Homo sapiens: one gene and its partners. The protein of the gene in region 5 interacts with the protein of the main gene of each other region in a biochemical or structural test. Each region holds a gene or a part of one and is shown on either strand. Other genes may lie near its edges.

The links.
Region 1: of the proteins of MAPK1 (region 5) and NRL, one has a biochemical effect on the other in vitro, tested with the Homo sapiens proteins (one study listed by BioGRID).
Region 2: the proteins of MAPK1 (region 5) and PPM1A form a complex in vitro, tested with the Homo sapiens proteins (one study listed by IntAct).
Region 3: of the proteins of MAPK1 (region 5) and PLEKHM1, one has a biochemical effect on the other in vitro, tested with the Homo sapiens proteins (one study listed by BioGRID).
Region 4: the proteins of MAPK1 (region 5) and TOP2A form a complex in vitro, tested with the Homo sapiens proteins (one study listed by BioGRID).
Region 6: the proteins of MAPK1 (region 5) and HSF1 form a complex in vitro, tested with the Homo sapiens proteins (one study listed by BioGRID).
Region 7: of the proteins of MAPK1 (region 5) and UBR5, one has a biochemical effect on the other in vitro, tested with the Homo sapiens proteins (one study listed by BioGRID).

What each region holds. Positions count from the first base shown.
Region 1 is NC_000014.9:24,108,450-24,111,949, forward strand, and holds part of NRL (neural retina-specific leucine zipper protein), read right to left. Parts: intron 1-3,500. UniProt on the Homo sapiens protein: Acts as a transcriptional activator which regulates the expression of several rod-specific genes, including RHO and PDE6B. Also functions as a transcriptional coactivator, stimulating transcription mediated by the transcription factor CRX and NR2E3.
Region 2 is NC_000014.9:60,283,721-60,287,220, reverse strand, and holds part of PPM1A (protein phosphatase 1A), read right to left. Parts: intron 1,598-3,500; coding exon 1,480-1,597; coding exon of another isoform or gene 1,457-1,479; exon of another isoform or gene 1-1,456. UniProt on the Homo sapiens protein: Enzyme with a broad specificity. Negatively regulates TGF-beta signaling through dephosphorylating SMAD2 and SMAD3, resulting in their dissociation from SMAD4, nuclear export of the SMADs and termination of the TGF-beta-mediated signaling.
Region 3 is NC_000017.11:45,473,722-45,477,221, forward strand, and holds part of PLEKHM1 (pleckstrin homology domain-containing family M member 1), read right to left. Parts: intron 2,193-3,500; exon of another isoform or gene 2,167-2,192; intron 2,006-2,166; coding exon 1,379-2,005; intron 1-1,378. UniProt on the Homo sapiens protein: Acts as a multivalent adapter protein that regulates Rab7-dependent and HOPS complex-dependent fusion events in the endolysosomal system and couples autophagic and the endocytic trafficking pathways.
Region 4 is NC_000017.11:40,407,897-40,411,396, reverse strand, and holds part of TOP2A (DNA topoisomerase 2-alpha), read left to right. Parts: coding exon 1-43; intron 44-150; coding exon 151-288; intron 289-2,766; coding exon 2,767-2,905; intron 2,906-3,272; coding exon 3,273-3,430; intron 3,431-3,500. UniProt on the Homo sapiens protein: Key decatenating enzyme that alters DNA topology by binding to two double-stranded DNA molecules, generating a double-stranded break in one of the strands, passing the intact strand through the broken strand, and religating the broken strand.
Region 5 is NC_000022.11:21,787,646-21,791,145, forward strand, and holds part of MAPK1 (mitogen-activated protein kinase 1), read right to left. Parts: intron 1,164-3,500; coding exon 1,049-1,163; intron 744-1,048; coding exon 612-743; intron 1-611. UniProt on the Homo sapiens protein: Serine/threonine kinase which acts as an essential component of the MAP kinase signal transduction pathway. MAPK1/ERK2 and MAPK3/ERK1 are the 2 MAPKs which play an important role in the MAPK/ERK cascade.
Region 6 is NC_000008.11:144,298,104-144,301,603, reverse strand, and holds part of HSF1 (heat shock factor protein 1), read right to left. Parts: intron 1-3,500. UniProt on the Homo sapiens protein: Functions as a stress-inducible and DNA-binding transcription factor that plays a central role in the transcriptional activation of the heat shock response (HSR), leading to the expression of a large class of molecular chaperones, heat shock proteins (HSPs), that protect cells from cellular insult damage.
Region 7 is NC_000008.11:102,283,701-102,287,200, forward strand, and holds part of UBR5 (E3 ubiquitin-protein ligase UBR5), read right to left. Parts: intron 2,918-3,500; coding exon 2,660-2,917; intron 2,082-2,659; coding exon 1,813-2,081; intron 1,639-1,812; coding exon 1,427-1,638; intron 1-1,426. UniProt on the Homo sapiens protein: E3 ubiquitin-protein ligase involved in different protein quality control pathways in the cytoplasm and nucleus. Mainly acts as a ubiquitin chain elongator that extends pre-ubiquitinated substrates.

The DNA of each region.
Region 1 (3,500 bases), on a different chromosome or scaffold from region 5:
GCCTCAGCCTCCCGAGTAGCTACAGGTGTAAGCCACCACACCTGGCTAATTTTTTTTTTTTTTTTAGAGATGGGGTCTCACTATGTTGCCCAGGCTGGTCTTGAACTCCTGGTTTCAAGCAATCCACCTGCCTCAGCCTCTCAAAGTGCTGGGATTACAGGTGTGAGCCACTACCCCGGGCCACTAAAGGGTATTTACTTATATTACATCTATAGCTCCTACCCTACACACAGAAAAATCTGATTCTTACAGACACAAGACATGAGAGTATTAGAACATCCCATAGTTACTTAGTGGCTTTCTAGTCAACACATTTTAAGTCCCTAGGTAAATTATTAGCACACTCTCCATTTCCATCGACACAGAGAATACTATAAGGCAATGTTCAAACACATGTATGAGCATCAGTCACTCCAAACACGGAACTGTCCCAGGAGCTCTGTGTGGTCACCAAGCTGGGAGCTGCAGTAGAGGAGAGGAGGACAGGGTTAGCTAGAGAATGAAAACACTCCTTTCCTTCTCTCCTCAGCAGCCCAGCCTGCCCTCTAGTGGAGATGCTAATGAGCAGGAAACAGGCCAAGACAGGTCAGGCAGGAAGTCAACTAGCTGACATTTACTTAGCAATTACCAGAAATTGTCCTAAAATGGGTGCTGAAGGTAGAAAAACCTCTCTGTGGCTTTAAGTGACTTTAAGTGCAACTGGAGAGAGTAGAGGTTACCCAAATGAAAAGTGCTTCACAAACTGTAACCACGCAACGTACCAAATTTCAAAATCAAGACAGCATAGGCAAAATTTAGTCTATCAAAATGACTTCACCATAATTATTTTTAAAGATATGCCATTTTATTTATTTCAATAGACACACTGTATACCCTAAGATATAAATGCTCTTACACATTTTGAAAAACATTACAGGTCATAGTGAGATAATCAAGTTCATAGGCTTAAAAATCTTTTATATGCTGCCAGGCGTGGTGGCTCACACCTGTAATCCCAGCACTTTGGGAGGCCTAGGTGGTCAGATCATGAGGTCAGGAGATCGAGACCATCCTGGCTAACATGGTGAAACCCCGTCTCTACTAAGAAAAATACAAAAAATTAGCCGGGCATGGTGGCGGGCGCCTGTAGTCCCAGGTACTCGGGAGGCTGAGGCAGGAGAATAGCATGAACCCGGGAGGCGGAGCTTGCAGTGAGCCGAGATCGGTCCACTGCACTCCAGCCTGGGTGACAGAGCAAGACTCCATCTCAAAAAAAAAAAAAAAAAATCTTTTATACGCAAAAAAATTAATCAATGAATCCAGTGATTAATCTTATATTCTTTCCCATGTGATGTGAAGGACTCAATTTTGTCATAAAACCTCAGTTATTTTAACATTTACCATGACTTTTAAATGTTTTACTCAATAATGTACAAGTTCCATATTACAAAAGCTTGAATTAAAAGATTTTATTCAGGTTTAAACTAATTTGTAAGAAGAAGAGAAAAGAGAATCAAAAAATGAATTGTTAAGGAGATAAGTTTAACAGAAGTTTTTTGTTCGTTTTTCTGGACCTCAGGTGCTATAGCTGTATTCATCATAATCCTTTGTAGAAGCTACACCTTTGTCACCAGTTCATGCAAGCCCTCCCCACTTTGTTTAATGATGTAATGAGCTGGGTATTATTATACTTTTTTTTTTTTTCTTTGAGACGGGGTCTCATTCTCGCCCAGGCTGGATGAAGTGCAGTGGCGCAATCATGGCTCACTGCAGCCTTGACCAGACTCAGGTGATCCTTCCACCTCAGCATCCTGGGTAGCCAAGACTACAGGCCCAGCTCAATTTTGTTTTTGTATTTTTCGTAGAGATGGGGTTTCGTCACATTGCCCAGGCTGATCTCAAATTCCTGTGGTCAAGCGAGCTGCCCGCCTCAGCCTCTCAAAGTACTGGGATTACAGGTGTGAGCTACCACGCCTATTATACTTTCTAATGAAAAAATGAAACCACATCGTTTTTGCATCTATTACATGTCACCAGAAGAAATGATTATCTTTATTTTTTTAACTTGACAATGTAGTTTGCACAATTTCCTATGGTATAAAAATAGAAGGCTACAACAAACCTATACCAGGAATAGGTACCTTAAAAAAAAATTGAAGACTACAACACCATTTTAATAGCTACCTGGTATTTCTGTGTCTATACTACATGGACCATAATTTATTTAACAATCCCATATTGCAAGATATTTAGATCTTTGTTTCCAGTGTTCCACTTTTATCAATAATTGCTATGTAGAACATAAATTTTTATGCATGTCCGGCCTAGATTTCTGGAAGCAGTATTACTGGGTCAAAGTGCAAGGCTGTGAGGAAGGGAGTTTTGTAGACAGCTTCCCTCTAATAAGAAATTCTCCTGGGAAGGTGCAGAGGTAAAAATAAACAAGCTATTTATTGGCATATTTGCTTAGCAGAAATATCAAAAAATGAGGTTACTAAAAATAGACATCCAGGTTTGGAAGTTTGTATTTGAAACAATGAACAATAGTGAGCCATTTGTTGATTTTCTTTTAGAGACAGTCTTTAGCTCTATCCCCAGGCTGGAGTACAGTGGAGCAATCATGGCTCACTGCAGCCTCCACCTCATAGGCTCAAGATTCCCTCCTTCATCCTTCCCAAGTAAGTTGGGACCATAGGCACGCGCCACGATGGCCGGCTATTTTTTTTTTCTTTTTGTAGACTGGGTCTCACTATGTTGCCCAGGCTGGCCTTGAACTCCTGGCCACAAATGATCCTCCTCCTCGGCCTCCCACAGTGCTGGAATTACAGTCGTAAGCCACCGTGCCCAGCTCACTTGTGCGTTAAGCACTAAATGCTGTTAGAGGAGGATTCTTCAGCAGATCAACTACCGGAAGAGGCATAGGTGTTTTTTGTTTGGTTGGTTGATTGTTTTTTGTGTGTGTGTGACGGAGTTTCGCTTTTGTAGCCCAGGCTGGAGTGCAGTGGCGTGATCTCGGCTCAATGCAACCTCCACCTCCCGGGTTCAAGCGATTCTCTTGCCTCAGCCTCTCGAGTGGCTGGGATTACAAGCGCATGCCACCACACTCGGCTTTTTTTTTTTTAGTGACGGGGTTTCACCATGTTGGCCAGGCTGGTCTCGAACTCCTGACCTCAGGTGATCCACCCGCCTTGGCCTCCCAAAGTGCTGGGATTACAGGCGTGAGCCACCGCGCCCGGCCAATTTTTTTAAAAAATGATTCCGTCCTGAGACTTTGCTGAAGTTGCTTATCAGCTTAAGGAGATTTTGGGCTGAGACGATGGGGTTTTCTAGATAAACAATCATGTCGTCTGCAAACAGGGACAATTTGACTTCCTCTTTTCCTAATTGAATACCCTTTATTTCCTTCTCCTGCCTGATTGCCCTGGCCAGAACTTCCAACACTATGTTGAATAGGAGCGGTGAGAGAGGGCATCCCTGTCTTGTGCCAGTTTTCAAAGGGAATGCTTCCAGTTTTTGCCCAT
Region 2 (3,500 bases), on a different chromosome or scaffold from region 5:
TCATAATTCCATCTAAAACTTAAAGTGTACACACTAAAGAGAAAAGTAGCAATTCATTTCTAAAATTGGATCCCATTTCATAGTAAAAATATTAAAATACTTATTACTTCTTTAAACCAATAAGAAAACATGTCTGCCCAAGTTAAAGTGCCAATACATTAAATATCAACTTATCCCTATACATATTATTCTTATGAATTTAAATTTTCCCATGAATCAATAGTTTGAACCAATGATTGTAGCATTCTAAATATTTTAAAATTGTACTATACCTATAAATAACTTATATTGAATGATTAATTTAAAATATAAAAATTCCAAGACCCTTGGTAACAGTAAGGAGACAAATTCGTTGAATAGTACGTCCAATGAATGCAATACTAAATAGTACAAACACATACTAGATGTATGACTATCAAGTGGCGGACAGCAATAAAAACAAAATAGTAGCTCTAGACAGTACTAAAGAACAAAACCAATCATGATTCTAGTATCAGACTGATTATGATTGGTATCAAACAGTAAAAAGGGGAAAAAAAATTAAAGTGAGTAGTAATTTCAATAATGCAGGCACAGTGGGATGTAGGTGTGGTAGGTCAATGCTTGCATGCGATTAGAGGTCTTTAACGTGCAAATTAACGACATTAGGAGCCTAAAATGCATTTTAACGCTATTTTTAAAATTTTTTTCTTGTTTTTTTTCTACCTCAGCTCACCAGCATTTTCATGTTTTAACACTATTAAAGTCATGTCAAGTTTTTCCACTTAGAGAAACTGCATAATATATACACTTTACTGCATATATGCAATAAACTGGAAGTCTCTGCAGAATTATGAGAAATATACTCCAGAAATGCTCAACTTATTTCTTAATCTTACTTGGCAGTTACTTTTCTGCCAGGTGGAGAAATATTATGTCTTTTATTGAGGTCTATCTTGTTTAGGTGAGACAGTTTATGGCTTAGGGAAGAAGCTCTGAAACAGTTTAAAGCAAATTTTTTAAAGCTGTGTATATAAAGTTGCTAATGATGAGGCTGTGATTTTCAAGTTATTGAAAAAAGGCCCTAGAGATTAAAATTAATATACACAGCTTTTCATAGAAAGATGGTATTCAAATTATCACCATCACAATCTCTTTGTAATTAAATAGACCACAAATCAGATTTTCCCGGCATAAAATTACTCATGCCAGTGAATTCATTAAGAATTTTAAAGCACACAAACATTTTAGCCTTTTAAAACAAAAGTATCCTGAACAGAATGTGGGTTACTTTCCACACTAGTTGTTATTTCTAATATAACTGTGATAGGACAACTGCATACATCTTAACAGCTACTACAGAAATGTCCTTTTCCACTTTCATACACTAGACACTAGCTGTCAAAGACACATAAAAATCTAAAAGCTAAAATGTTAAAGTTTGATTGTGTTGAAGATTTTTCTTTAATAAAGCTACTTATTTTTTGTTAAATGATCCACCTTCTACTCTGCATTCCAGGTACTTGTCCAACTCTGCCTCCTTCTTCACTGCTTCTGGCGATACTTTGGGTGCATTTGGAAAACAGATCAAAATCACACTCATGTTGTCTCGACTTCCCTGGGAAGAAAAAAATTTGAGAATATTTTAGTTTTCTTTTTGCTCTTCAAAGCCTTGAGAACCTTTACAGCTGTGCCAATTACAGTTATACTTGTTCTAGTGAAAATGTTACTTTCAGGGAGAAAAAAATACATATGTGCACGCATGCGTGCGTGTGTGTGTGCAATGACTCCCCCTCCCCCGAACAGTATAGAGAGAATACAGTATAACCAATACTCCAAAAGACAGGAGAGAAACATTACAGGTTAATCTCACTGTAATAATAATTTTTTATAATTCTATAAAACAATACTATTTCTAAACATTTACTGGTGACTTAATTTGAAGTGATACCTAATACAAATATACATGTGTACACACACTCCTTCCATACAACATGACAGAAAATTTTAGTGGCATTGTTTACAATAGGATTTGACCTGTAGTTATATGTACCTGATAAAATTACCTTTAAAATAAATTATAAATTGTGGGGCTAATACATTCGCTTCATAAGTAGAAATATGAAATAAGAGGTAAAACTACCTAAGGTTTATAAACCAGCTTTTAACTTGTATTAATTTTAAAAACTGACAACTTTTAGGAACTACATTCATTTTTAAAGACATCTAAGTATTCAAATGCTATAATTAAATATTTGAGTATCAAATATATACCCTCAGAAGAATTTTAAAAAGTCAACATTTGTTTAAAAAAACATCAAAGAATAAGTTAATAAGCATTATTGACAAAACAGAACAGAGTGTGGCAGAAAGAACACTGAACCCAAGTCAAGGGCCTTGATTTTCTAGTCTTAATGCTGTTAGCAATGTATAAAACCCTGTACACGTCATTTATAATATCTGTAGGAAAGGGTGTAGCATGTATTATATGCTAAACTAGGCATTATATATATATATATGTATATATATATATACACACACACATATATATATATATACATACGCTCATTAATTCCTCAACAGTCTTTTTTTTTTTTTTTGAGACGGAGTCTCGCTCTGTCGCCCAGGCTGGAGTGCAGTGGCGCGATCTCGGCTCACTGCAAGCTCCGCCTCCCGGGTTCACGCCATTCTCCTGCCTCAGCCTCCCGCGTAGCTGGGACTACAGGCGCCCGCCACCACACCCGGCTAATTTTTTGTGTTTTTTAGTAGAGACGGGGTTTCACTGTGTTAGCCAGGATGGTCTCGATCTCCTGACCTCGTGATCCGCCCACCTCGGCCTCCCAAAGTGCTGGGATTACAGGCGTGAGCCACCGCGCCCGGCAACAGTCTTATAAGATACTATTATCTCCATTTTAAAGCTGAGAGAGGTTGAACAATTCGTTCAGGAATGTAGAGTACAAAACTAATAGAGGTAAGCCTTGGTCTCAGGTCTGTCTGACTCTTAAGTTTGTAGAACCTTCTCTGGCTTCAGCTTCCTCATCTGTAAAATAAAGGGGCTGAGCTAGCTCACCTGTGTATATTATCCCATTTGATCCTCCTGACAACGCCATGAGACAAGATAATAATGTCTTATCCTTTTTATGATGAAAAAAACTGATTAGAGTTTAAATAGCTTACCTAAAACCATACACAGTCTCAGAGCAAGTTCTTCTGACTCCATGTACAAGGCTATTTCTATTACATCACGTCTAATGATCACTACATTCCTCTTTCAAGTGCTACAGACCATTAAACCTTAGTTTCAAAGGATTAGGATATCATAAATGTACTGAGATATCACATGGTCAAATATTAAAACTCTAAAATGCTTTTCATTTATAGACACTGAGGCCTAACCCTCCCCACCCTCTTTCTTTCAAAACATGCACTCTGATAAAATCTTTTTACCTTTGATAATCTTCCACATTATTACAAAGCTCAAGTAGTAAGACTAAACATTCAGCTTATAACTCTTGCAGAGA
Region 3 (3,500 bases), on a different chromosome or scaffold from region 5:
CTAATTTTTTGTATTTTTAGTAGAGATGGGGTTTCACCGTGTTAGCCAGAAAGGTCTCGATCTCTTGCCTTTGTGATCCGCCCGCCTCGGCCTCCCAAAGTGCTGGGATTACAGGCGTGAGCCACTGCGCCCAGCTGAAAATCTTTATACTGGTATTTGTTGTAGATGCATTTAGAAATTTGGAAGAATATACAGGAAATTATTATGGTTTTAGGGGTGGGAGGAAAGAACAGGGTAGAGGGAGAACAGGAATGGGAAAGGCTTTCACTGTATATGTTTTAGATTTTTTTTAACCATAAAAAGATTATCTATGCAAATTTTTTATTTTATTTATTTATTTATTTTTTTTTTTTGAGACAGAGTCTTACTCTGTCACCCAGGCTGGAGTGCAGTGGTGCGGTCTCAGCTCACTGCAAGCTCCACCTCCCGGGTTCATGCCATTCTCCTGCCTCAGCCGCCCATGTAGCTGGGACTACAAGGCGCCCGCCACCATGCCCAGCTAATTTTTTGTATTTTTAGTAGAGACGGGGTTTCACCATGTTAGTCAGGATGGTCTCAATCTCCTGACCTTGTGATCCACCTGCCTTGGCCTCCCAAGGTGCTGGGATTACAGGCGTGAGCCACCGTGCCCAGCTGCAAAAAAATGTTTAAAAGGCTGTGTGAAGAAGGCTCTGCCCAGTTCTCTCTTCAGCCTAGTTCATCTGCCCCACATACTCTTCCACACATCTGTCTGTCCCCACCTGTCCACCACCTCCTGCATGCAGCACTCAGGTCCTGTGTCCCCCAGGAGGTATTCTGTGAAGTCACACTCTTATGCGTTATGTTTCATCTATTTGTTGGACGTTTTAAATGTACTCTGACCTATTAGTTTCCTTCCTTCTAGATGAAGACAACAATATTTTACACTGTGCCTTGTAGAGACTAAGTATCTTGTTTTTTTGTTGTTATTGTTTGTTTTCAGTTTTTGTTTTATTTATTTATTTATTTTTAATTTAGAGGCAGGATCTTGCTACATTGCCCAGGCTGGCCTCGAACTGCTGGGCTCAAGCAATCCTCCTGTATCAGCCTCCCAAGTGCTGGGATTTCAGGCATGAGCCACCGCACCCGGCCAAGTAACTTGCTAAAAGTCACCGGGGCAGAGCTGGAGCCCAAACCAGCTCTAAGCTGTTCTAAGTCCACTTTCTCCACTATGCCTGTATTGCCTGCTACAGTTCCCAGCTACTCCAGTCCCTGGAGAAGTCGATGACTCCCTTGGCTTTCTTTAATTACTAATAGAGTTCAGTAACAGACAATCACATGCTATGGGAAGAAAGGGAGGAGGAGAGGAAAGAAAGGAGGGAAGAGAGAAGATGGGAAGGAGTGGGGGCAGCGTACTCACTCTTGCAGAGACCGGTCTGAGTCCTCAGCATTTGCTGTGCCCAGGTCTGAGTCACAGGACATGGGCTCCTCGCAATGGTCTGGACTCTTGGAGCCATTCTCTTGGAGTAAGCAGCTATCAGAGTTTAGGCTGCAGGACAGCTGGGATGAACTGGCCGTGTCCAGGCTGAGGGAGGAGGCAGTCAGCTTCTGGTTCCTCCGTATCTTATGGCCCGAGTGATGGACTTCGATGTCTTCAGAGCCTGAAGAATGGGAAATGGAATCCAGAGATTCCTTCCGCTGTAGTTCTGCACCAGAGGTAGAGAGAGGGTCCAGCTCAGAAAGCGGGCAAAGCCCAGACAGGGCCAATGGGGTGAGCGTCCACTCATTTAAGATGGCAGACTTGTAGGAGAGTTCGAAGGACAAGGACGTGAGGCCCTGCAGGAAGCTAAGGAGGAACTCGCCCTCCTCAGCATCCCGGAGCAGGGCGGTGGGCTGGTAGTACTCATGCAAGCGGGCCTGCTCCTGCAGCAGCAGCTTCAGGTAGCACTCCATCAGGCCATCGTTCAGGGCCAGCCGCAGCCATGCCCGGCAGCGGCCCACATCCGTGTTGACAAACGTCAGGTGCTCCAACTCTGAGATGATGTGTCTGGGAAGGGAGAACAGACGTGTTTCAAGAAACTACCCCAAATCACAGAGATGTGCTTTTATCCACTGGTTAGCAGGAACCAGGAATAACTACTGCAAATAGATACAGGCATGAAAAAATATTGGGTAATAGTGTTTTAGGCCAGATGTGGTGGCTCACACCTGTAATCCCAGCACTTTGGGAGGCCAAGGCAGGTGGATCACTTGAGCTCAGGAATTCGTGACCAGCCTGGGCAACAGGACGAAACTCTGTCTCTACAACAACAACATAGCCAGATGTGGTGGCTTGCACGTGTAGTCCCAGCTACCCAGCTACTCGGGAGGTTGAGGTGGAAGGATAGCTTGAGCCTGGGAAGCAAAGGTCACAGTGAGCGGAGATTGGACCACTGCACTCCAGCCTAGGCAATATATATATATATATTTATATTTATATATAATAAATATATAAATATAAATTATATATATTTATACATTATATATATATATATATTTTGAGATTGGAATTGTGAAAGATAATTTCCATGTTCATTCCAACTACCACGGGGCCCCTGACACATCTGCTCATCTAAGGCATGCTGTCAGAGCTCCTTAAGTGCAAAGTCCTTGGAGCAATGAAGATGCAGGGTAAAGACATGGTCCCTGCCCTCAGGCACAAGGGACTGATGGAAAAAGGCATAAAGTGTAGGAAATCAACAACCCTGTAAGAGGATTGGGGAGCGCTCCAATTACAGCATGTGGCGGAAAAGTGGGTGGTTTGGTTGCAAGGCCAGGAAAGAGAGGGTCTTAAATATCAAATCAATAAGGCAACACGGGGTAATGGCCCCACACCCAGCTGTGCACCAGAACCCCCTGGGGAACTTGAGCAGGATACAAGTTCTGGGACCCCAACCTAGTGAATCAGTCTCCAGGCTAGCATCTGGGAGCCTGTAGGCTACAGATTTTTGTTTAGAAAAGTGACTTGACCACAGTCATGCAGACTGCAGGGTAGATGTTCTGCATAAGGAGATCAGACCCCAGGTGTACCAAACTCAGTCCCAGAATGCCTCCGTCTGATGTACATGCCCCTCTGAGCTACCACAGTCCCTAGCGCAGGTTTATCTCCTCCATGGGAATGTAGACCGCACTCTACTAGGCTCAGTGAGTAAGCTCCAGGGAGCTTCAGCTCAGTAAATGTTGACCAGATGATGGACTCAAGGAAAGACAGAGTGAGATAAGGGGGACAAATAGAAAGCCAGTGTCACCCAGGAAAGAAGAACGTGAGACAAGGCAGTGGCAATCTGCATGGAAAGGAAGATTAGAGACTGACAAGGCTTCTTTTGGGCTGAAGGTGGCATTTAGTAGTCCTCAGAGGCACAGTGCCAGCTACTTGCTCAAAAGCCCAGACAGTTAGGGGCCAAAGAGATAAGTGTCTCAGGGTGAATATTCATATGCTTTTCCTGATTCCACTCTTTATATAATCCCAGCACTTTGGGAGGCGGAGGTAGGCAGATCACAAG
Region 4 (3,500 bases), on a different chromosome or scaffold from region 5:
GAAGAAGAAGAACAAGGGTGGTGTTGCAGTAAAAGCACATCAGGTATGTGCTTTTGGCAGTTTTCTTTTTCTAAAGTCAAGGAAGAAGAGAAAGGCTATAAATAAAGCATGAGTACATTTTTAGTGGCTTAATATCAACTTCTATTGCAGGTGAAAAATCACATGTGGATTTTTGTAAATGCCTTAATTGAAAACCCAACCTTTGACTCTCAGACAAAAGAAAACATGACTTTACAACCCAAGAGCTTTGGATCAACATGCCAATTGAGTGAAAAATTTATCAAAGCTGTGAGTACTTAGAGGAAAATAAAAATAGAAACACCTGACTTTATTTTCCATTGCACTTCTTAGCTCTGCAGAAACAATGATTCTTCTCATAGTGAGCTTCTCCAAGTCTTCCCAATCTGAAAAGGAAGTAAAAAAGGGCTTTACTTTAACTGATTTACCAAAGACTTAATGACCGTCTATATTTCAGTATTTCCCAATTACATTTTACCATTAAGCTTAGATCACTTTTGAATTAATCTAGCTGTTTAACAAACACCCTCACTTAAATGCCTAAGACTTGCTTTCAGTCAACACATCCAAAATTGAATTTGTTACCTCCATACTCACTGATTTGCCCATACAAGCAGCCCCCCACTCTCCAACAAAAAAACAACTTCCTATCTTAGTAAAAAGCCCCAACCAACCTCTAGGTTGTATAAACAAGAAAGCTGGGAGCCTTCCTTTATTTCCCCTCCTCTCTAATCCGGTCAATAAGAATCATCTCTTGGATGCTGCAGTAGCTTCTCACCATTATCTCTTTTTTGGTTTACTACAATAGGTTCTTAACCTTCATACTGGTTAAGTCCTTTCCTTGGAATGCTTTTGAGTGACTTTTGTGTTAAAACACCCATTTTTATCTTCACTCTCATTTGAAATCTTTCAATGACTTCCACTCAGGGAAAGTCCAAATTCCATAATTTGGCCAACAAGAAAGATCTGCTGTAATCTAATTACACCTACTTCTCCAACTCATCTCAGTGCCAGTTTTTCGTATATTGTCCTGTTGCTTTTAAATTACTGAAAAGCACAGTGCTCTTCCCCTCCTCAGAGTTTATTCACATGCTAATCCCTCTGCATGAAATACATCCTTTTCACCTGGCTACTTTAGGTCTTGTCCTTTCCTCAGGAAAGCCTTTACTTTCTACCCTTCCCCCCACCTAAGTTGGTTCCAATATAATATTGAACATACCTTATTAGCAAACTTTTTGCTTATCCATAACACTTATAACACTGTAACTTATTTTATTTCTGTCTTTTTTTTTAGGCAGAGTCTCGCTCTGTCGCCCAGGCTGGAATGCAGTGGCACGATCTCGGCTCACTGCAACCTCCGCCTCCTAGGTTTCAGTGATTCTCTTGCCTCAGCCTCCCGAGTAGCTGAGATTACAGGCATGCATCACCATGCCTGGCTAATTTTTTTGTTGTTGTATTTTCAGTAGAGACAGGGTTTCACCATGTTGGTCAGGCTGGTCTCAAACTCCTGACCTCAAATGATCCACCCATCTCGGCCTTCCAAAGTGTTGGGATTACAGCCATGAGCCACTGTGCCCAGTCTTTTTTTTTTTTTTTTTTGAGACAGAGTCTTGCTGTGTTGCCCAGGCTACAGTGCAGTGACGTAATCCTGGCTCATTGCAATCTCTGCCTCCCAGGTTCAAGCGATTCTCCTTGCCTCCTGAGTAGCTGGGATTCTCCAGCCTCCTGAGTAGCGGGGATTACAGACATGCACCATCACATCCAGCTAATTTTTGTATTTTTAATAGAGATGGGGTTTTACCATGTTGGCCAGGCTGGTCTTGAACTCCTGGCCTCACTTGATCCACCATCCTCGGCCTCCTAAAGTGCTGTGATTACAGGCGTAAGCCACTGCACCCAGCTATGTCTGTCTTCTATGTTGTGTCTTAAACTTGATGAGGACAAGTGTCTCAATTTGTTTTATTTGTGTCTAATTTTATTTATTTATTTTTAATTTTTTTTTTTGGAGACAGCTTCTCACTGTTTCCCAGGCTGGAGTGCCGTGGCTTGATCTCAGTTCACTGCAACCCGCGCCTCCCAGGTTAAAGCAATTCTCCTGCCTCAGCCTCCCAAGCAGCTAGGATTACAGCCATTTCACCACCACCATGCCTGGCTACCCTTTTTTTTTTTTTTTTTTTTTTTTTTGAGACGGAGTTTCACTTTTGTCACCCAGGCTGGAGTGCAATGGTGCGATCTTGGCTCGCTGCAACCTCTACCTCCTGGGTTCAAGCGATTCTCCTGCCTCAGCCTCCCGAGTAGCTGGAATTACAGGTGCCCACCACCACGCCAGCTAATTTTTGTATTTTTAGTAGAGCCGGGGTTTCGCCATGTTGGCCAGGCCGGTCTCAAACTCCTGACCTCAGGTGTTCTGCCCACCTTGGCCTCCTAAAGTGCTGGGATTATAGGCGTGAGCCACCGTGCCTGGTCTAATTTGTTTTAACCACTATATCTCCAACAAGTAGCTCAGTGCTAGCACAATATAATTATATAGTAAATATTTATTGAACGAATGAACCAAAAGGAGCAGCTCCCTCAGTGGTGATAACCTGACATGGGAAGATGTGCCACCCTCTATCCAGAAATTATTGTTCTACATCTTTTTAATTTTTGAATCATTTTTATTTGTATTAAGGCTCATTTGTATTCTAGATTTCTGATAGATCCCTTCTTCCCTAATATGATCCCTAATATGAATCTTCTCGTTTTCAGGCCATTGGCTGTGGTATTGTAGAAAGCATACTAAACTGGGTGAAGTTTAAGGCCCAAGTCCAGTTAAACAAGAAGTGTTCAGCTGTAAAACATAATAGAATCAAGGGAATTCCCAAACTCGATGATGCCAATGATGCAGGTATATATTTAATAATGTTTCCAAACTTTTAAGTCTTATAGTTGTTATTTTATTCATTAATGGCATACCACGGATATTTATTTTTCCCTTGACAGAATAACTATATTCAACAGAATAACTTGTTAAAAATCGGCCCGTTTCCTATTATGGAAGATTTAGGTCATTTCCATGTTATAAATAATATTGAGGTGATTATTTTGGAGTATAAAACAAGAATGTTTATATTATGATCTATTACCTAACAAATAATTTTGCTCATTATATAGTAAATTGTGTTTTATCACAAGGCTATAAACAGCATGTTCAAGTTAGTATATTTGAGGTTGAACTAAATGTGCTAATATTAATATGTATATTTTTATTTTAGGGGGCCGAAACTCCACTGAGTGTACGCTTATCCTGACTGAGGGAGATTCAGCCAAAACTTTGGCTGTTTCAGGCCTTGGTGTGGTTGGGAGAGACAAATATGGGGTTTTCCCTCTTAGAGGAAAAATACTCAATGTTCGAGAAGCTTCTCATAAGCAGGTAGAATATAAGACGATCTTCAGAATCTAAATCTAATTTATAATACAAGACTTTATGCTTATATTTAATT
Region 5 (3,500 bases):
ATGAAAAGGTGTAATTTGTTTGCAGGGTCCTAGACTTCCTGAGACCTAAAAATGTGACCTTAGGCTGAACGCTGTGGCTCACGCCTGTAATCCCAGTTTTGGGAGGCCAAGGTGGGCAGATCAAAAGGTCAGGAGTTCGAGACCAGCCTGGCCAGCATGGTGAAACCCTGTCTCTACTAAAAATACAAAAATGAGCCAGGCGTGGTGGTACGCGTCTGTAGTCCCAGTTACTTGGGAGGCTGAGGCAGAAGAATCGCTTGAACCCGGGAGGAGGAGGTTGCAGTGAGCCGAGATCGGGCCACTACACTCCAGCCTGGGCGACAGAGTGAGACACTGTCTCAAACAAAAACAAAAAAAAAGTGACCTTAATGCAAATTAAAATTAGCAAAGAAACCAAAAGGTGGAGAACTAGACCGTCATTACCAGGTTCCCTTACTGCACTGCCACTGTTTCCAAAAAAAAAAAGGGGGAAGACAACAATTCAGAGTGAGCACTAAAGAAAGCATTATCCAATAGCCATAGGCTCATTTTTCAGGCTAGTGACCTAACAATTTAACAAATAAACGCGAAGCTAAGCCTAAGAAAAAACTAATCAACGAAATAACATTTACCTTTGGAGTCAGCATTTGGGAACAGCCTGTTCCATGGCACCTTATTTTTGTGTGGAAGAGAAAGCAAATAGTTCCTAGCTTTTAAATTTATTATACAATTCAGGTCTTCTTGTGATGGGGATCCAAGAATACCTATCAGATAAAAAAATTAGCTATTAGTTATCAGGACCAAGGTAAATGACTACACACCATCAACTCTGAGTCGGAATGAACCCTGATAATTGATATGAGCCGTTGCTTATCACCACTCCTGATGTTTACCTTTCTTATGTTTTTACACAAAAGTCCTTAACATTTTAAATCAGAGAAGGTTAAAAATTCACACCTACCACAGGTTAAAGAGTATATTAGAACTCTTCTTAATTTAATGAAGTGACTTTGATGTAAGCTGTACAAACTTGAGTAAATCTAGCTCCTGAAGGGCTCGGGAACCTTACCCAAAATGTGGTTCAGCTGGTCAAGATAATGCTTCCCTGGAAAGATGGGCCTGTTAGAAAGCATTTCTGCCAGAATGCAGCCTACAGACCAAATATCAATGGACTTGGTGTAGCCCTGCAGGAGAAAGAGAGAAAAGACTGAAAATGGTATCTGGTGTTACAGGACATGATGAGATCTTCCTGTATGACAGGTGCATTGCTGATGGGACTCTGAACTTCTCCTTTGACTCTACAATTCAGAAATACAAGTAAACAACATGGAAAAGCAAAAAACAATTTGGCTTTCTTATGAGAGGCTGAACAACCAAGATTATGTGATTTTATTTTTCTCTTCATAGTTGATTAACTTGGGCTGGGCACAGTGGCTAATGCCTGTAATCCCAGCACTTTGGGAGGCCGAGGCGGGCGGATCACTTGAGGCCAGGAGTTTGAGACTAGCCTGGCCAACATGGTGAAACCCCATCTCTACTAAAAATACAAAAAAATTAGCCGGGCATGGTAGTGGGTGCCCGTAATCCCAGCTACGTGGGAGGCTGAGGCAGGAGAATTGCTTGAACCCAGGAGGCAGAGGTTGCAGTGAGCCAAGATCGTGCCACTGCACTCCAGCCTGGGTGACAGAGCGAGACTCTGTCTCAAAACAACAACAAACCCACAAAGTTGATTAACTTATTAAATTAGAATTTCCAAAGTATACATCCGTCCTTTTTTGAAACAATTTGAGAGACAGATTTAGAATTGTCATAAATTGGAGCTGGAAAAAGAAAAAAGGTCTAAAAACCTTTTCTGGGTTTGGGGGAGTGTGTGCTAGCTCCATCATATTTTACCAATCTCTTCTAAAATATTCTCAGCTGGGCATGGTGGCTCACGTCTGTAATCCCAGCACTTTGGGATGCCGAGACGGGCGAATCACCTGATGTCAGAAGTTCAAGATCAGCCTGGCCAACATAGTGAAACCCTGTCTCTACTAAAACTACAAAAATTAGCCGGGCGTGGTGGTGGGCACCCATAGTTCCAGCTACTTGGGAGGCAGAGGCAGGAGAATTGCTTGAACCTAGGAGGCAGAGGTTGCAGTGAGCCGAGATTGCACCACTGCACTCCAGCCTGGGCAACACAGGGAGACTCCATCTCCAAAAATAACATAACATAACATATAACATAACATAACATAACATAACATAACATAACATAACATAACATAAACATAACATAAAACATAACATAACATATAACATAACATAACAAATAAAATAAAATAAAAGAATTCTCATCTTCTTTTCCTATTCATTTTTCAGGAATATGTTTTCTTTTAAAGGAATCCTGTTAGAAGTCATGGGAGGATACTTTGGGAGGCTGAGGTGGGAGTACTGCTTGAGGCCAGGAGTTTGAGGCTGCAGTGAACTATGACTGCAGTTGCACTGTTACACTCCTAATAGCAGCATGTGAAAGAAAATGCATTTCCTCATGTCCTCAACAACACTGGGTATTAACTAATTATTATTATTATTATCATTATTATTATTATTTTGCCACACATGGTGGCTCACACCTGCAGTCCCAGCTACTCGGGAGGCTGAGGTGGGAGGATCACTTAAGCCCAGGGATTGGAGGCTGCAGTGAGCTGTGACCGAGCCAATGCATTCCAGCCTGGGTGACAGAGTGAGACCCTTTCTCTAAAAATTAAAAAAAAAAAAAAAAAATCATGGAAGGATTCTGTCTGAATCATAACAATGGTGCAAAAAAGATGTTTCTCCAAGGAATATAAGCTGACTCTTTTAAAATTAAGAGATGGTGTCATCACTCTGTCACTCAGGCTGAAGTGCAATGGTGTAATCATGCCTCACTGCAAATTCAACTTCCTTGTCTCAGGTGATCCTCTCACCTCAGCCAGGTCCTGAGTAGCTGGCACTACTGAGTAGCTGGCACACAGTAGGTGGGCCACAGGCATACACCACCACACCTGGTTGATTTTTAAATTTTTTGTAGAGAAGGGGTCCCACTATTTGCCCAGGCTGGTTTCAAACTCCTGGGCTCAAATGATCCTCCTGCCTCAGCCTCCCAAAGAGCTGGGATTACGGCATGAGGCACCATACCTGGCTCCAGAAGTGCCTTCTAATACAATGAAGTGCTTTTCTGGTATTCATGTTAAAAATGCATGACCCAAAACTGAGGGGCATTCTACAAAATAGCTCATCTGCACTCTTAAAGGAGACTAAAGAAACACAACAACCTGTCTCTATGAAAAGCACAAAAATAAATAAGTAAATCAGCCATGAGCAGTAGCACGTGCCTGTAGTCTCAGATACTTGGGAGGCTAAGGTGGGAGGATGGCCTTGAGCCCAGGAGGCGGAGGTTGCAGTGAGCCGAGATGGTGCCACGGTACCCCAGCCTGGGTGACAGAATGAGAACCCGTCCTTTTTTTTTGAGACGGAGTCTTGCTTTGTCACCCAGGCTG
Region 6 (3,500 bases), on a different chromosome or scaffold from region 5:
TGAGCCACCGCGCCCGGCCTCTTCTGGAGCTTTTAAGATTTTCTCTTCACCAGCCTGTTCCAGCACTTTGATTATATAATGTACCTTGATATGGTTTTGGTTTTATCCTGCTTAAGACTGATATTCTTGGATTTGTGAGCTTACAGCTTTTCAAAAATTTGGGAAAAATTTTGGCCATAATTTTTTTTTTGAGACAGGGCTCTGTTGCCCAGGCTGGAGTGCAGTGGTACGATCATGGCTCACTGCAGCCTCCACCTCCTGCACTCAGGTGATCCTCCCGCCTCAGCCTCCCGAGTAGTTGGGACCACAGGCAGGCACTACCACGCCCGGCTAATTTTTGTATTATTTATAGAGACAGGGTCTTGCTATGTTGCCCAGGCTGGTCTTGAACTCCTGGGCTCAAGCGATCCACCCATGTCAGCCTCCCAGAGTGCTGGGATTTCGGGCAGGAGCCACCGTGTCCAGCCTTTTGGTCATATTTCTGTATTCTCTTCCCCACTGTTTTCTGGAACCTCAAATACGTTAGACCACATGATATTATGTCCTTGAAGCTCGGCTAAGTTTTTGCAGTCCTTTTTCTCCCTGTACATCACTGTGGACAGTTTCCATTGCTTTTAGTTCAGGAATCTTTTCTTCTGAAGTTTCTAATGTTTTGTTAAACCGCTCCGGTGACTCTGAAGAACCACCTTTTTACTTTAGAATACATGCCCTACACCAGTGTCCCCCATCATTAACATCCTGCCTTTGTGTGGTACAGTTGTCTCAAGAACATTAGACACATTGTTAACTAGGACCCACATTCTAATCAGATTCCTTAGCTTTTTACCCAATCCTTCCTCTGCTCCAGGACATCATCCAAAATCCATCCAGTTGTCACATCTTCTTCAGTCCCACTGACTCTGGCACCTTTCAGACTTGCCTAGTTTTTGAGAACCTTGACAATTTTGAGGACTCGTCAAACAGTTTGTGGAATGTCTCTCAATTTGGATTTGTTTGATGTTTTTTCATCATTAGCTGGGGTTACGTATGTTTTTGGGAGGAAGATCAAAGAGGTAGAGTGCTGTTCTCATCATCCTATCAAGAGTACACAACAGGCCGGGCGCGGTGGCTGACGCGCCCAACACTTTGGGAGGCCAAGGTGGGCGGATCACGAGGTCAGGAGATTGAGACCATCCTGGCTAACACGGTGAAACCCCATCTCTACTAAAAATACAACAAAATTAGCCGGGCGAGGTGGCGGGTGCCTGTAGTCCCAGCTTCGTGGGAGGCTGAGGCAGGAGAATTGCTTGGACCTGGGAGGTGGAGGTTGCAGTGAGCCGAGATTGTGCCACTGCACTCCAGCCTGGCAACAGAGCGAGACTCCGTCTCAAAAAAAAAAAAAAAAAAAAAAAGAGTACACAACAGTGATACGCATGTCACTGCTGATGGTGAGCATGGTCCCTGGTGAGGCTGTGTTGCTGGAGGTCTCCACTGGAAAGCTGCTCCTCCTGCTTCTGTGCTCTGCTCTTTGGAAGAGGGTCACTAGGTAAAGCCCAGGCTTCTGGAGTGAGGAGTTAAGCATCACCTCCTCGAAGGGGAACTATCTCAGTAAACAATGTGGAATTCTTCTACTTGGGAGATTAGTTCCAGTGACATTTTGTCCAACTTGCTTCTTTTCTGTATCTTCCATTTCTCAGTCATGTTTTCTTATTTTTTGAGACGGGGTCTCGCTCTGTCACCCAGGCTGGAGTGCAGTGGCACGATCTTGGCTCACTGCAAGCTCCACCTCCCGGGTCCAAGCAATTCTCCTGCCTCAGCCTCTGGAGGAGCTGGGACTACAGGTGCCCGCCACCACGCCCGGCTAATTTTTTGTATTTTTAGTAGAGACGGGGTTTCACCATGTTAGCCAGGATGGTCTTGATCTCCTGACCTCGTGATCCACCCGCCTCGGCCTCCCAGAGTGCTGGGATTACAGGTGTGAGCCACCACGCCCAGCCCTCAGTCACATTTTTGTGTTATTTCTTTGAGCACAGGGAACATTTTTATAATTGTTTACTGTCTTTGTTGGCTAATCCTATCAAAACTGGGCCTGCTACTGGACCCCCTCCAGTGACAAGTCCATTTTTCTGCTTTGGCTTGTCTGCCCATGACTGATTAGATTCTGGACGTGAATTTTTTTTTTTTTTTTTAGAAGGAGTCTTGCTCTGTTGCCCAGGCTGAAGTGCAGTGATGCGATCTCGGCTCACTGCAACCTCTGCCTCCCGGGCTCATGTGGTTCTCTTGCCTCAGCCTCCCAAGTAGCTGGGACCACAGGCGCCCATCACCACACATGGCTAATTTTTTGTAGTAGAGACGGCGTTTCACCATATTGGCCAGGCTGGTCTTGAACTCCTGACCTCAGATAATCCGCCTGCTTCGGCCTCCCAAAGTGCTGGGATTACAGGTGTGAGCCACTTCGCCTGGCTTCCTTCTCTCAAGAGTGCTGTGTGTACTCCGTGCTAGCAGGCAGTGGTGTTTCCAGGGCTTGCCTTGCACTTGTTTCCACGGCATTGGAGTGGCCTTTCCTCTGCAGCTTATTCTGCGCCACTTCCAAGCTGTGTTTCCTCTAAGGTGTCATGAAAGCTCCTTGTATTTAAAGTGGCTTCTATACTCTGGCTGGTGGGAACTGAAATAACCACGGCCCTGTGTGAGTCCTGCTCATCTGTCCCCTTACACTTACTCTTCCCCTTCAAGTTGCTCTTGGTCCAGCTCCACGAGGTTTCACTGTGTGCACCAGCAAATCGGATCCAACCCAAGATGCAAGCGGGCTCACGCGCAGATTGCTGGAGCTCTTTGTTTTGGGCGTAACTCCTTCCTTTCTGGTACCACACCCCACACATTCTAGCTGCCTCAGCTGCCCCAAAGTCTGGGTTTGTTGGGTTCTCTGCACGTGAGTCTGCAAATTCCCTCCACATAAAAAGCCTGGACAATTTTGTGGTTTACCTCAGTCCTCGCCGGTTTTTTCTTTTCTTTCTTTTTTTTTTTTTGAGACAGTTTCTCGCTCTGTGGCTGGAGCGCAGCGGCGCAATCTCGGCTCACTGCAACCTCTGTATCCCAGGTTCAAGTGATTCTCCTGCCTCAGCCTCCCGAGTAGCTGGGATTACAGGCACGCACCACCACGCCTGGCTATTTTTTTTTTTTTTGTATTTTTAGTAGAGACGGGGTTTCACCATGTTGGTCAGGCTGGTCTTGAACTGCTGACCTCAGGTGATCCAACCGCCTCAGCCTCCCGAAGTGCTGGGATTACAGCCGTGAGCCACCGTGCCCGGCCCTAGTTTTGTAACGTCTGAACATTTTCAGCGGCTTCTTATGCCTTAAGGGTTAAATCCAAGTTGAACATGTCAGGCAACCCCTACCTTAGGGGCCATTATGAATTTCACAGGGTCTGCTGGTGAACCCATCAGAGAACCCAGTGTCTCTCTCATCTTCCTGCCTCAGTGGAACAAGGTCCCTCCTCTGCTGACCACAGGCACCTCTTGGAG
Region 7 (3,500 bases), on a different chromosome or scaffold from region 5:
CAATTCTGCACATTTGACATTTCTACCATTTTTTTTCCCCCAGTTCTCACATGTTCAAAAGCAAGTTTGTCCATTATACTACTCTTAGGTTTTTCTCTTTAATTTTCCTATTAGTTACTCAGGATCAAGGTTTAAATATAAATGATGCCCCTGCTACTTAATCCCTCAACAAGGCCCTAAATTCTGTTTTTTATTTCAATGCTTCTCTCCCCTCCTTTTGGTCTTCACTGCCCTACTTTAGTAACTATTACCTCTACTGTAGATGCCTATCACTGTCTTTCTAAGTAATCTCTTAGACCTTTGTCTTTCCTCACTTTATGATCTGCCCAGAGTAACAAAGTTGTTTATCCTGAGGTAGAGACAGAACCAAATCCTTGGATTTTGACTTCAGGTATGAGGCACTTTTACTATATTACTGCTATTGCTCTGATGTTCAATATTTGAGCTGATACCTACTCCTGAAAAAGGTCACTTTATAACTGAATAGAAAGAACATAACAAATACATAGATATATATTTTATTTTAATTCAACAGACTAGGGGAGGCAGAAAAAAAGAAATGTGATTTGAGAAAAAAAGAGCAGCACTGGTAATCACACATACTTTCCCCCTCCTGAGTACAAAGTACATTCATAACCAATTATAGTCAAAATAACTTCCTAAGAGGAGAGGGGGAGGTCTTGGGGATAATGAGACAAAGATATAGACCAATAACTTCAAAAATAAAAAGGCTTTAGTATCAGATTCCTACGATATGAATGGATTTTTAAAAACAGCTTGGATGATAACTAGCCTATTCTGCCTCAACAATTTAAGTAATGCAAGCAAGTCATTTCTTTCTCCCTTCACAGTAAGATGAGGTCTTACATAATAGCAACTAAAAAGCTTTAACCTTCTAGGATACAAAGATTCTATCTAAACATGCAAGTATAGATACTCCTTGACTGAAGATGTGGTTATGTCCTGATAAACTCATCATAAACGCATAAAGTCTAAACGCATTTAATACCCCCAATAAACCCATCACAAAGTCAAAAAAAAAATGTAAGTTGGGGGTCGGGCGCTGTGGCTCACGCCTGTAATCCCAGCACTTTGGGAGGCCAGGGTGGGCAGATCACAAGGTCAGGAGATCAAGACCACCATGGCTAACACAGTGAAACCCCGTCTCTACTAAGAAAACAAAAAATTAGCCGGGCGTGGGTGGCAAGTGCCTGTAGTCCCAGCTACTCGGGAGGCTGGGGCAGGAGAATGGCATGAACCCAGGAGGCGGAGCTTGCAGTGAGCCGAGACGGCACCACTGCACTCCAGCCTGGGTAAGAGTGTGAGACTCCGTCTCAAAAAAACAAACAAACAAACAAACAAAAAATTGTAAGTTGAGGATCCATTTTAAGTTGGGGACGTTCTGTATATATGAAGAATTTCATACCGTCTGCCTTCAAGTGTTCGTAAGCTAGCTTCTTCTCGCGCAGTCATCCTCTCTCTTCTCGCTGAATTCTGAGAAGCGTGAAGAGGATGATTTGGATGTCCAGGATCACCAGCAGATGCTAATGCAGAACCATAACGTAATTGAGCTTCAGTAGAATCCATAATACTGACCATCCAGTTCCAAGTGGGAATAAGCTTTTCTTCTACATAGTTCTATGAAGACCAAACTAAAATAGTTAAAACTATCCAAATAGAGCTAAATTCGATACAGCAGCAGTATGTCAATATGTAAACGTTTCTAACATTTAATTCCCCTAATACTGGAATTCTCATAATTGACAGCCAAAAAAAAATAGTGGAATGGGAAACTTTTCAGTGGTTTCATACCTGTAAGTTTACTGCATCTTGGTAAGTCAATTTCACAGCTGCTGGAATCTGAGAGTATACTAGGTGATTATACTTAGGAATAAGGCCCATCAAGTCCGAGATTTGTCTAATGACAATGCTGTAAGCCCTGGCTAAACTGCTTGCAGATGTTAGGTAACTGCTGGCGTTGCTAGCTTCCAAAGCAGCTGCTGCAGCTGCAGCACTTGTACTGATGGTACCACTCCGGCGTAAGTTTGAAGGATCAATATAAATCAAACCCGCTGAACTTGCTATAAGGAAAAAGGACAACCACAATGAGCTAATGTCAGTTGCTAATTGTGTTTCTCTGGGATTATATATACTTACGTAAATCTAAATGGTCAATTGTGGTACCCAAGCAAAAAACTTTGCCTAAACCACACTATTTTGGGGAGAGGAGTATGGAGGGGACAAGAATTAATATAAAGTTCTCAACCAGGGGAAATCTGACCCCCACGCCACCTCCCCCCGCCAAAGGGGCTACACATTTGGCAGTATCTACAGACATTCTTGGTTATCACAACTGTGGGAGCCAAGGGGAGGGGAAGAAGGGTGAGAGGGGTTTCACTGGCATCTAGTGGGTGTAGGCTAGGGATGCTGCCTAACATCCCACAATGCACAAGACAGCCTCCCACAATTACCCAGTCCAAAGATGCAATAATGCAAAGACTGGGAAACCCTGCTATAATCATATGTACATATTTTTTATATTTGAAACTCAACAAAACAATGAGGAACTATCATAAAACTAATTTTATCCCCAGATGAACATGCATAATTTAAAAAATCTATCTAAGTATTCTTAGCAATACTAAGTTTTCAGACTTGCCTGCTGGTGTAGATGTACTGGAAGGGGCTGTACTGGCTGCTCGCTGATGCTGGGTGTTGCGGACAGCCCACTGCATTGAACGGGGAGCTTGGGCAGCACCATTGGCATGGGAGCTATTTGTGGTTCTTTCTAATGGCTCATCAAGCATAAAGGTCTCCTGTTCTATGTCGTCACTCTGACTACTACTGCTATCAGAATCACTTGAGTCATTCGATTGAGAATCATCTTCAGAAAAGAAGGCAGGAACACTGCTTGCTCCTAAAATTTTTATTTTTAAAACCAAAAACATTGTGAGTTTAATAATTAAAATTACAATGTACCCCCTCATTCAGGAAAACATACATATTAAACAGAATGCCAGATTGTATTCAATAATCCACAAAACCTACCATAAAATAGTTTTTATTAGAAAATAACTTTCAAGCCCAGCTCTGTGGCTCAGGCAGGACTGCAGTGGCACCATGTCGGCTCACTGCAGCCTCTGCCTCCTGGGTTCAAGCTATTTGTATGCCTCAGCCTCCTGAATAAGTAACTTTTAGCTGGGTGTGGTGGCACATGCCTATAATCCCAACAACTGAGGAGGCTGAGGTGGGAGGACTGCTTGAGCTCAGGAGCTCAAGACCAGCCTGGGCAACACAGTAAGATCCCAACTCTTTAAAAAAAAAAATTAGCCCGATGTGGTGGCTTGCACCTAGTAGACCCAGCTACTCAGGGGGCTGAGGTAGGAGCTCAGGAGGTCAAGGCTGCAAAGAGCTCTGACTGCACCACTGGAATATCCAGCCTGGTGACAGAATGAGACCCAATTTAAAAAAAAAAAAAAAAAAAAAAAAGGCAAGAAAAT